2 separate regions of the Homo sapiens genome follow, and region 2 is linked to region 1. Evidence: fine-mapped expression QTL. A gene starts in region 1. The other region holds a variant in brackets. All regions are shown on one strand. Distances are between the middles of the regions.

Region 1 (5,366 bases):
AGTAATCACTCAGTATATGAGGTTGGTCGTTGTGTAGACGATGGTGAAGGAATCAGTGCTGACTAGACCAGGGACTCCTGTGGGGCCGCACCAACTTCTGGGGAACAAATCAGAGCTCTTGTTCCTTTCCAGCTTTCCAAACCCTCCTAAGCCATCCAGGCCCACATGAAATCTACCTCCTTCAGGAAGCCACCCTGACTACTCTAGTCCACATTGATCTCACCATATCTGAGCTCTTTCTGTCCATTACCTGTATAGACTACTCTAGCACCTAAATCGGCTCTAATAACTCTTCAGCTTCTCAAAGCAGCCAATGGCTCCTGGAAGGCAGACACCTCTAGCCCTTCCCTCTCCACAGCCCAAGCCAGGGCTAGGTACACAGTAGATGATCCCTTAGCAAGCCTTCAGACTGATTTCAGTGTGGCTGTGGATGCCTGTGACTCAGCCCTTCTCTCCCTCACGCCTCCTCACAGTCCCACTCTCCCTACTCACCCACCCTCTCCTCTGGTTCCAGCCAGCAGGGTGGGGAGTTGGAGCTATGACCCCATAGGACAGTTGTTCCCAGACTATAAAATGTCCAAAGAAACTTGAGGGTGGGGGAGTTAACAGATGGGGAAAAAAATGTTCCTTATGTTCTTTCACCAAATAAAGACATGAAAAAAAACACTTGTCCCACCACCATTTTAGTAAAGAAAGGATGTTTTCACACCAATAAAGCAGTAAGGGCATAATCCTTGATTAAAGGCTAATACGAAGCTGGAAAGTTTTAACCTTATTGAGAAAACAAAACAAAACAAAAAGAACCTCACTGTTGTTGTGACTTTTCTCCTTTCTCCAAGGACTGGAGAACACTTCAGCCTCCACTGATCTGTGTCGGTGGAACTCATGGGTCTGGGGACAGCTATTCTGGAGGACGTTCCTGCTGAACCAGGGTTCCCTACAAACACATGAGGACCCCTAAAGCCATTGGGTTGGGCAGATCCGGATTCCCTTTCAGCTGTCCCAGAGGAGGCTCACCCTATGCCAGACCCTACCTATAACCTCAGGAGTTGAGGTGGCGGAGGCTCTGAACTCCCGTCCCTGTACCTCTCCCCTCCGGGCAGGGCCGAGCCCCCCCTTCCCCGCCAATCCGGAGCAGATGAGGCGAGACTAAGCGGCAAGCCCACCCTGGGAAGAGGCTGGGGAGACCTAATGGGCAGGGTCCCCCTCATCTCCATCACCAAGCTGAGCACTCGTGCCCATGCCACCCCCCAGCCCCAGCCTGGGGAAAGGAGGAAAAGTGGGCACCCTAGCCCGGAGGTGGCGGGGGAGGGGGGTGTGGGGGCTGGTGTCCGAGACACCCGGCTGGGCGGGCACAGATAGGATCTGAACACAGGGAAGCATGGCCTAGCTCTTTGATCCACAGCCAGCCACGCTGGGCCTGGACCCGGAGGGAGGCACGGCTGTCTTCCGGCCCGGCTTTGCACCGCTGCCAGGGGTCCTGTGGGGCCCTCAGAGGGAGAGGCGTCCAATACCCGGCCCTCCCCCAAATACCCTCTATCCCAACTGCTCTCAGAAGAGGCGTGAGCGTCTACAGTGAACCCAGCACAGAAACCTGCTAGGGGAGCTGCTGTTGACTGCATCGCGATCCAAAGGACCGGCGTCTTTTGTAGATGCAGGGGCTGAGCCAGGCCAAGCGCGCCGTGGAGGCCCGCGTGGACGCAGACCCGGGTGCCATACAGATGCGCTGGAATCCAGGCACTTTCCCGCGCTCCGCAAATCTAGATGTTTCAGCCTGGATCGAGCGAGGGTTAGAGGGTTAGTCAGGCCAGGGTCAACTTCAGAGTCATGGGCTCCCTAAATGCGACTTCTAGGGTTGAGTTGCTGTGGACGAGCGACCCATGTCGGAATCCCGCGCCCACGTGGCTGCCCAAAGTTCCGAGTCTCCGGGCTGCAGGTTCTAGTCACGGAACCGAGTTGGGAGAGTCATAGGGGCTGGGACTTGGAGGATCGGCTGAGGTCCGGTGCTCTTGGCTGTGTTCGCGGCTCGGAGCCGTCGCCTGACTGAGGGGCCCGTCACAGATGTGTGATGTATAAGCTCTGCACGCAACAGGAGCTCAATAAATGTGCGAAGGGGGGTATACTTATGTTCGCACTGTATGCAGGCGGCCTAGAAGGAAGTCCCTGATTGGCACAGGGATGGAGGATGGGGCAAGAGCCGCAACAGCGCCGCGGAGTTCCAACGCTGCCGGTTCCCTGGGGTACGAGCACAGCCTCAAGCAGCCTCAAGCCCTAGGAAGCCCCCAGTTCAAAGCACAGGGCGCATTGGAGCCTGGGCACGATACAGTTCACACCACGGCTGCGATGGTAAGCCACGCCCAAGTCCCAAGGGCCTAGGGGACCCCCGCCCTCCACAGCCGGAGGAGAAACCTGGGCGCAGAAAGCAGGGGGAATATCTGGTTGTAGGTGAGTAAGCGGGGTCAGGAGTTCCCGTTAGAGTCTCTGCGTTTCGGGAGAAGGGTGATCATTCCCAGGCTTGTCCGACGTCTCTCTCAGGGTGCGCTCCGGAAGAGCGAGCCCTTTAAGGCTATGCCGAGTGGGCGCGTCCCGGCCTCTCCCGGGAGAGGAGAGGCGGGGCGGACCTGTGTCCCGCCCCCGGCCCGGCCCGCCCCCAGTGCCCGCCCCGCCCCCGGCACTCGGCCGGCGGCGCCTTTGATGTTCCGACCCGCCAGCTCGCGGAGCCGCTCTGCCCCGCGCCCTAGCCCGCGCCTGCAGCCCGCCCAGGCGGAGTCAGCCCGCGCTCCGCCCGCCGCGATCCGAGCTCGGAGGTTCGGACTCCGGGCTCGCCGCCCCCCGGGCCGGCTCCGCGCCCCGCACTCCCGGCGCCCAGCGCCCCGCGCCCCGGCGGGCGGAGCGCACCATGCCGCAGCTGGACTCCGGCGGGGGCGGCGCGGGCGGCGGCGACGACCTCGGCGCGCCGGACGAGCTGCTGGCCTTCCAGGATGAAGGCGAGGAGCAGGACGACAAGAGCCGCGACAGCGCCGCCGGTCCCGAGCGCGACCTGGCCGAGCTCAAGTCGTCGCTCGTGAACGAGTCCGAGGGCGCGGCCGGCGGCGCAGGGATCCCGGGGGTCCCGGGGGCCGGCGCCGGGGCCCGCGGCGAGGCCGAGGTGAGCCCCCGCCGGCGCCGGCTCCTCCCCCGCGGTCGCCGCGCCGCGCCGCCCCAGTTGCGCGCGGCCCTCGGGGTCTCCAGCGCGCAGAGCGTCCCTGCCCCGGCGTCGGCCCCGACCCCCGCGGTCCCACCGCCCCTCACTCCCCTCCGGTTCTCCCTCCAGGCTCTCGGGCGGGAACACGCTGCGCAGAGACTCTTCCCGGACAAACTTCCAGAGCCCCTGGAGGACGGTGAGTTTCTGCCCGGCCCGGCTTCCCTTCGTCGCGCTCAGGCCCTGGCCTCGGTGGGACGGGGACGCCAAGGACCGCGGGGAGCCGGGTGCCTCCCCCACCGCAGCTCAGGAGGCGGCAGAACCCAGGGGTGGAGAGTGGGGGGCGGGCTTCCCGGGCGCCGCCGGGTCGAGTCACTTCCGGTGCCCTGACCTTTATAGGAGTAAACAGACCCCCGCCATCCCCGCCTCCCCTCCTGCCCAGGTGACTGACTAATCCGCCGCCTTCAGGAGACAGAATTGGCCAAGGTTTCTTGGTTGGAGGGCGGGGGGTGGGAGGTCAAGTAGGGGCCACCTCGGGGAGGCCTGCCCTCCAGGTCCTTCCCCTAAAACTTGGCACTGCCGATACTCCCAGCCCGTTCCTTCCCAAGTCAGGAACTTGCAGGGGACCCCTTGGCAATTCTTTTTCTCTCAAGAGCAGACAGCCTTCAGTCCCAGCCGCTGCCAGGGCTGGTGTGTCTGACCCAGCTGTGGTTTTTCCAGGCCTGAAGGCCCCGGAGTGCACCAGCGGCATGTACAAAGAGACCGTCTACTCCGCCTTCAATCTGCTCATGCATTACCCACCCCCCTCGGGAGCAGGGCAGCACCCCCAGCCGCAGCCCCCGCTGGTAAGTGGACCCCGCAGCCAGTGCCGCCCTGTGCTTGCAGCCTCCTTGACCAGGTAGGTGAGGCACCGGCAAGAGACTTCTGCCTGGAACAAAATAGACGAGACTCCTGTGCTGGTCTTTTCTCCCATACACACCCGGTGGGATCTGAACCAAAAGGAGAACTTTGCTGAAGGAAGGAGGGGCCGCCCTGGGGCACCCCCCTGCCCTCTGCCTCTTGGCTTTTGTCTTCCCAGCTTGCTCATAAGCAGGTGCAGGCTCTGTCCTGGTGCTGGGTGATGCCAGGGTGGGGTCTTCTTAGAGAACTTTTGAGCCGAGACCACCCTTGCTCCTCGCTGCTCTGATCTGAGCTCAGAGCTTTGCAATTAACTTTCTAACTAGCCCAGGAAACCCTGAGCCTCCTTGGCGCTTGGAGGAATGGGCAGGAAAGCTGATCTGTTCAGGTCCCCTGGTTGTGCAGGAGAAACGTGCTGTGTTCGGTCGGCTGTGTCCTGACGGGCGTGAGTGTACCGTTGCCAAAGAAGGACCCTGAACACCATGTGTGGAAAGTGGGTTCTTAGGAAACTGGCTTGGTCTCAGACATACCAGGAAGGGTTGGCAAAGGTGCTACAAATCAGTGATGTTGAGAAGGGACCAGTTTAATTAATTCGTGAATTAAATATTTTTAAGTCCCAGTGCTTTGAAAAGATTTCATGATCTTTACAAACCATGCCCATTGGTACAGATGACCTAAAGTGTGAAGAGCCTATTCTGAGTGTTTTGGAGCAGTACAGCTGCGCTTTTAAAGAAATTCCTATTCGTGTTTCACACTCTCCTCAGTTGGTCCAAGTTGGGGTGAAGGTACGTGGAAGGTTTGGAGGACTGTGGTAAGTGAGTGTTGGGTGTGAATGTAAGCCCAGTGCAGGTGGGGCTGGCAGGCTGGAGGCTCGCATGGCTACAGTGGGGTCACCAGAGGGAGGAGAGTTAAGTGCTAGGCTATTTCAGACCAGGAGTGAAGAGGGTGGTTCTGAGAGCTGCTGCATGCCAAGCCAGTGGGAATGAGAAGACATATAGGCTTCTTTCCAGAAGCCTAGGCTGGAAAGCCTATTCTATGGCTAGCTCTAGAAATGAGCTCCTTGCCCTTTGGGCCCTTATCTGTAAAATGAGTATGTTTTTCGAGTAGTCTCTGTATCCGACTTTCTGCTCTGGGGTGGCTTGGTATATGAGGTGGTTCACTTCCTTCCAAGTCTGTGAGATGGGGGGTGTGCCCCCCAGCATTCCCCCGCTGATGTAGTGACTACATCCAGAGAACTCACCCTGTGTGAGCCCATGCTTAACAAAGATGCGTTTTGGATCCCTACAAG
Region 2 (5,366 bases), 63 kb before region 1:
TGTGTAAACTTAGGCTTAGAGAGAGATTAAGTCCCAAAGCACATGGGTAGCACTGGGTTTCTAACCCAGGTCTAGCTGATGTCAAGACTGTTTTCCTAATAGTATGTATCACTGACTCCCTGTGAATATTTTCAGAAACAGCATTTAAAATGATTTCATACTATCCTTTAATTTAATTTTTAACTTATTTAAATAAATAGAGATAAGGTCTGTCTATGTTGCCCAGGATGGTCTCCAACTCCTGGCCTCAAGCAATCGTCCTACCTCCGCTTCCTAAAGTGCTGGAATGACAGGTGTGAGCCACCATGCCCACCCCTTGCTATTCCTCAATCACTGCAAATTTAGATTACTTTCTGGTTTTATTTTTTATTGCCATAAATAATTCTGCAATAAACAACTTGATGCATAACCCAACTCCATATTTAAGGGTTACTCATTAGCAAAAATTCCCCAGAAAGTGAATTACTAGTTCAATTGGTACAAACATTTCTAAAGTTTATTTTTTTGTTTGTTTTGTTTTTTAATACAGAGTCTCACTCTGTTGCCCAGGAGGGAGCGTAGTGTGATCTCAGCTCACTGCAACCTCCATCTCTCAGGTTCACGCAATTCTCCTGTCTCAGCCTCCCAAGTAGCTGGGAATACAGGCGCCCACCACCACATCTGGATAATTTTTGTATTTTTAGTAGAGATGGGGGTTTAGCCATGTTGGCCAGGCTTGTCTCAAACTCCTGACTTCAAGTGATTGGCCCCACTTGGCCTCCCACGGTGCTGGGATTACAGGTGTGAGCCACCCTGTTCCTGGCCTAAAGCTTTTGAGGTGTGTTTTTCCACTCAACTTTGTTTAGTTTAGCTTTTACATATGGAAATTTAGATGTACTAAATCCACCACCGCCCAGGCGCGGTGGCTCACGCCTGTAACCCCAGCACTTTGGGAGGCTGAGGACGGCGGATCATGAGGTCAAGTGATTGAGACCATCCTGGCCAACATGGTGAAACTCCGTTTCTACTAAAAATACAAAAATTAGCCAGGCGTGATGGTAGGCGCCTGTAGTCCCAGCAACTCGGGAGGCTGAGGCAGGAGAATTGCTTGAACCTGGGAGGTGGAGGTTGCAGTGAGCCGAGATCACGCCATTGCACTCTAGCCTGGCAAAAGAGCAAGACTCCGTCTAAAAGAAAATAAATAAATAAATAAATAAATGTGCCACCTTCTCTTGTTCAATATTATTCACTGTTTCCTGATTTGAAGTACTTTACCCTTCTACAGAAGTTAATAATTCTATTTTCTAGTGGTTGTACAGTTTGCTTTTAAATTATTCAATGCGTTAGTTCTTCAGCACACCCTTTGGGGGATGCACTGAAGAGAAGCCCCATTTACACTTCCAAGCCCCCCCAGCAACTGTTTCCTCTGGGCAGGGGGAGAGATGAAAGAGAATGCAAAATACTGAGTGTGAAATAGGGAGGCCGATGTCTTCCTAAATTACAGGGGAATGATTGCCCGTTCTTCTCCACATTAATGACTTTCTCTCAAAGTCTTCCACTTCTTCTTAGAAGCTTCCACAATGTACTGGTTGACTTGAAGTTAAGGCAGAATTCTCCTAATGGGAATTAGCCTAAGAAACTTCTTGAAAAACTCAAAGGATGCAAAAATTCTCAAAGTGGAATATTAAAAACATGTCAAATTGGAGATGAGGGTGTCACTGGGCATATCTGTGTTTGCTGAGTTGGCTTTGGGCGAGTGTGGTGGCAGAGTCAAGGTGGGGATGGAAGCAGGGGCTCAGGTGGATAAAAACAATCCACCCCTTCCCAGCAAAAAAGCCATCAGGAGTTTCTGGGGATAAGGAAGGGCCTTGCAAGTGAAGAGGCCTCTGGCGGTTCTTGAGGGCATGTGTGAACTCCTGGCTGAGGGGAGAGTTGGCAGTGTATTAGGCCTTATACAGTTGTATGTGTTGTGCCCTGCACAAGGGCACCTGGCCCGGGGAACCAGTGAGGCTGAAATCCACCCCATGCCCTCCAGCTAGAGGAGGACAGAGCACCTTCTTCCAGTTTCCTTGAAGGCACCCTGTGGGCCAACAGCTGTCTGGACTGTACAGACAGTGAGATGGAGAAGGAGCACTGCCCAGGAGCCAGGGGGGCCAGGCCCTAACTCCAACTCTCCCACAGCCCTCCAGATTGCAATGGTCCCAACCCAGCTCTGATGCTGAGCCCGCTCTCAGAGTCCACAGCAGCTCTGGCAGCACCCACAGTGGGCTAGGCCTGGGCTACAGTGAAGAAGGCGCCTTGGGATGCTTCTGCAGGTTAGGGCAACCAGACTAACCAACGTTCTTCAAACAAAAGACTGCTACAGAGTCACTTGCATTTTGGTTTGGGGCCAGAGCTTCTTCCACTGCCTTTTCCTTTCAGGCAGTGCCCTTCTGTGAGCTTGATCATTTGTGAGAACCTTGTTGAGTGAGTCAGCCAGTCCCCTTGCTCAATACCTGGATGTGACACCATCTGTTCCATATCTCTCTTCTTACAGATATTAAATGATGTTAATCATCAATACCAATCAACAGGGTTAAGGACACACTACCCCTAGTGCCTGGGCAGTTTGTTTTTTTTTTTTTTGGCTTTGTTTTTGTTTTTGTTTTTTTGTTTTTTTGAGATGGAGTCTTGCTCTGTTGCTTCAGCTGGAGTGCAATAGCACGATCTCGGCTCACTGCAACCTCCACCTCCCAGGTTCAAGTGATTCTCCCACCTCAGCCTCCCGAGTATCTGGGATTACAGGCACCTGTCATCATGCCCAGCTAATTTTTGTATCTTTGTAGAGACGGGGTTTCACCATGTTGGCCAGGCTGGTCTTGAACTCCTGAGCTCAGGTGATCCGCCCACCTCAGCCTCCCAAAGTGCTGGGATTACAGGGGTGAGCCACTGCATAAGGCCGAATATTTTAAGCTGAAGGAATCTGAGCAACAGCGGGTACAAGCAAGAAGGACTCTCTGACCTTCCCCTGAAGCAGGTCATAACCCCTCATTTGAAAGGCGCCCTCCCTCCACCAGCGGGAAAGGAAGATGCATCTTCTTACCTCTGAAGACAAAGAGAAATCTGAAGGGTCAAGCTTTCCTGGTTTTGCCCAGTTTGCTACTCTGATTGACCTCATTCTCTTTTGTCCTGTCACCTTTTCCCAC[A/C]ACTCTCCACTCTTCATTAAACCTGGTACAAAACGCAGGTTTAACTGTCTTCAGGTCTTCATTTCTCTATGAAGCCTCTTGTGTTATGTAAAACTTTTTTTTTTGAGACAAGGTCTCACTCTGTCACCCAGGCTGGAATGCAGTAGCTTGATCTTGGCTCACTGCAGCCTCGACCTTGCAGGTTCAAGCAATCCTCCCATGCTACCACGCCTGGCTAATTTTTGTATTTTTTTGTAGAGGCAAAGGTCTCTCCATGTTGTCCAGGCTGGTCTCGAACTCCTGGGCTCAAGTGATCCTCCCAAAGTGCTGGGATCACAGGCATGAGTCACCGTGCTCAACCAAAACTTATATTAAATAAGTTTGCATGCTTTTCTCTTGTTAAGCTGTCTTTTGTTATGGGTCCCTGCTGAGAACCTAGAAGGTTAAAAGGAAAGATGCTTCTCCCTCCCCTATTCAGTCCACTTCCTGAGCACTGCCATGGGCCAGGCGCTGTGCTAGGTGCTCTACACACATGCTCATTTAGCCCCGACACCATGCTGTGGGGAGCTACTGTTGCTCCCCCAACTTTGCAAAGTTAAGAAGCAGAAGCCCTGGCCGGGTGCGGTGGCTCATGCCTGTAATCCCAGCACTTTGGGAGGCCGAGGTGGGCCATCACCTGAGGTCAGGAGTTCTAGACCAGCCTGACCAATATGGTGAAACCCTGTCTCTACTAAAAATACAAAATCAGCTGGGCGTGGTGGTGCACGCCTGTAATCCCAGCTACCCGGGAGGCTGAGGCAGGAGAATCCCTTGAACCCAGGAGGTGGAGGTTGCGGTGAGCTGAGATAGCGCCATTGCACTCCAGCCTGGGCAACAAGAGTGAAACTCCGTCTCAAAAAAAAAGAAGAAAGAAATAAAAGAAACAGAAGCCCCAAATACCACAGTGCATAACTGAGCAGGGTTTGAATTCAGATCAGACTGACTCCAAATCCAGGCCCTGCTAACACCACTTTCTTTTTAAATGAGGAAAATGAAGCATGGAGTGGCCATGCCACTCGCCTGGTCACCCAGCAAGTCAGCAAAAAGATGGCTTTCAGTTCCTTCTGAAAAGCCCTCCATTCTACAAACAACCCCCTTCCAACCCGCACCCACCATGCCTGGGGATACTCTGCATTTTGTCAGTTTGCTGTGGGTCAATGGACCCATTGCCCAACCCTCCATCATTGTCTAGGGCTCCTGTGAGCCGTGCCAGGGGCAGGCGCCAGGAAGGAGGATCCTGCAGGAGGAAGCACTGAGCGCAGCCTGCATGGAGTCAGACCCGGAGGACCTCACCCCAGGGCAGCTGCTCTGGGAGGAAGCCTGGGGGGAAACAGAACAGGTTATGGACACCCCATCCTGTCCCCCTCAGCCCCATTCCGGGCCATTCCACATTGCATGGGTGGGACTTTCTCTCCAGCCTCCACTTTGCTGGGCAACTTAGTTAGCATCTCTGTGCTACCCAGTCAGGGCAGCCCACCCATACGGCAGTCAACCAGCGCCTGCCTTCACCTAGGGAAGATGCCTTTTTCCCTAAACCACAAGTCAACAAGTCAGAAACAGGGCTTCTTTCCATTCTCTATCTTTATGGTGGATTCCTCCCAGAGCTGGCATTTACTCCTACTCATTAAAAATGCAAAGAACCAAGTACAGCAACAGAGAAGTCTTACGTTATGACTTCCTGTGGGTTACAGGCCAGAGGAGGGAACAATCAGCTCCTTTGTTGTGCAAGCTGCTGTTTGTCACTGACAATGGCATTCTTAAGGAATTATGATATTAAGGATTTAATAACCATTTGGTATAAGCAGTAAAACATTTCAATTATGGCGTTTCTGGAAAGTACTGTCCTCATCTGTTGCAGGAATTTACAAGGTGTCTTTTAATTAAGTCGGTTCTAAATGAGACACCTTCTCAGTGTGGTAATTTTTTGAATGAAACTGCCCTGAAGTACTAATTAGTTTGTTTTTAATGCTTGATTTACTCTGCCAGCATGGTGGCTAGGGCGGGGCTGCCCTGCTGGAACTGGATGAATCTCCAGCAGGCAGGAACAAGGTGCAGCGGCTCAGGGCTCTCCTGGCTGGAGAAATGGAGGTAGTTCATTTCACCCTGGCAAGCTTCTAGACTCTCCCTGTTGAGAACTGACCATAGTCTGTCTTTCTTTTCTTTTCTCTTTTATTTTCCTTTCTT

What was found. PIP is the estimated chance that this variant, and not a neighbour inherited with it, causes the effect. A credible set is the group of variants that fine-mapping cannot tell apart.
Region 2: its variant is the best candidate, but not a certain one, in a credible set for the expression of TCF7 in nasal epithelium (TOPMed, PIP 0.65).

Annotation. Positions count from the first base shown.
Region 1 is chr5:134,112,008-134,117,373 of GRCh38, forward strand. TCF7 (transcription factor 7) reads left to right here and starts at 2,674. Exons shown (of 10, transcript NM_003202.5): 1 at 2,674-3,148; 2 at 3,314-3,380; 3 at 3,902-4,026. The coding sequence starts at 2,900. It also overlaps a transcript of VDAC1 not described here. RefSeq lists an enhancer at 2,311-2,540 and a silencer at 2,631-2,750.
Region 2 is chr5:134,049,079-134,054,444 of GRCh38, forward strand. It overlaps a transcript of VDAC1 not described here. Among named protein-coding and RNA genes, the nearest start is that of VDAC1, 47 kb to the left of the region's middle. RefSeq lists enhancers at 434-1,009, 2,736-3,311. The variant A/C (reference allele first, on the strand shown) is at 3,165.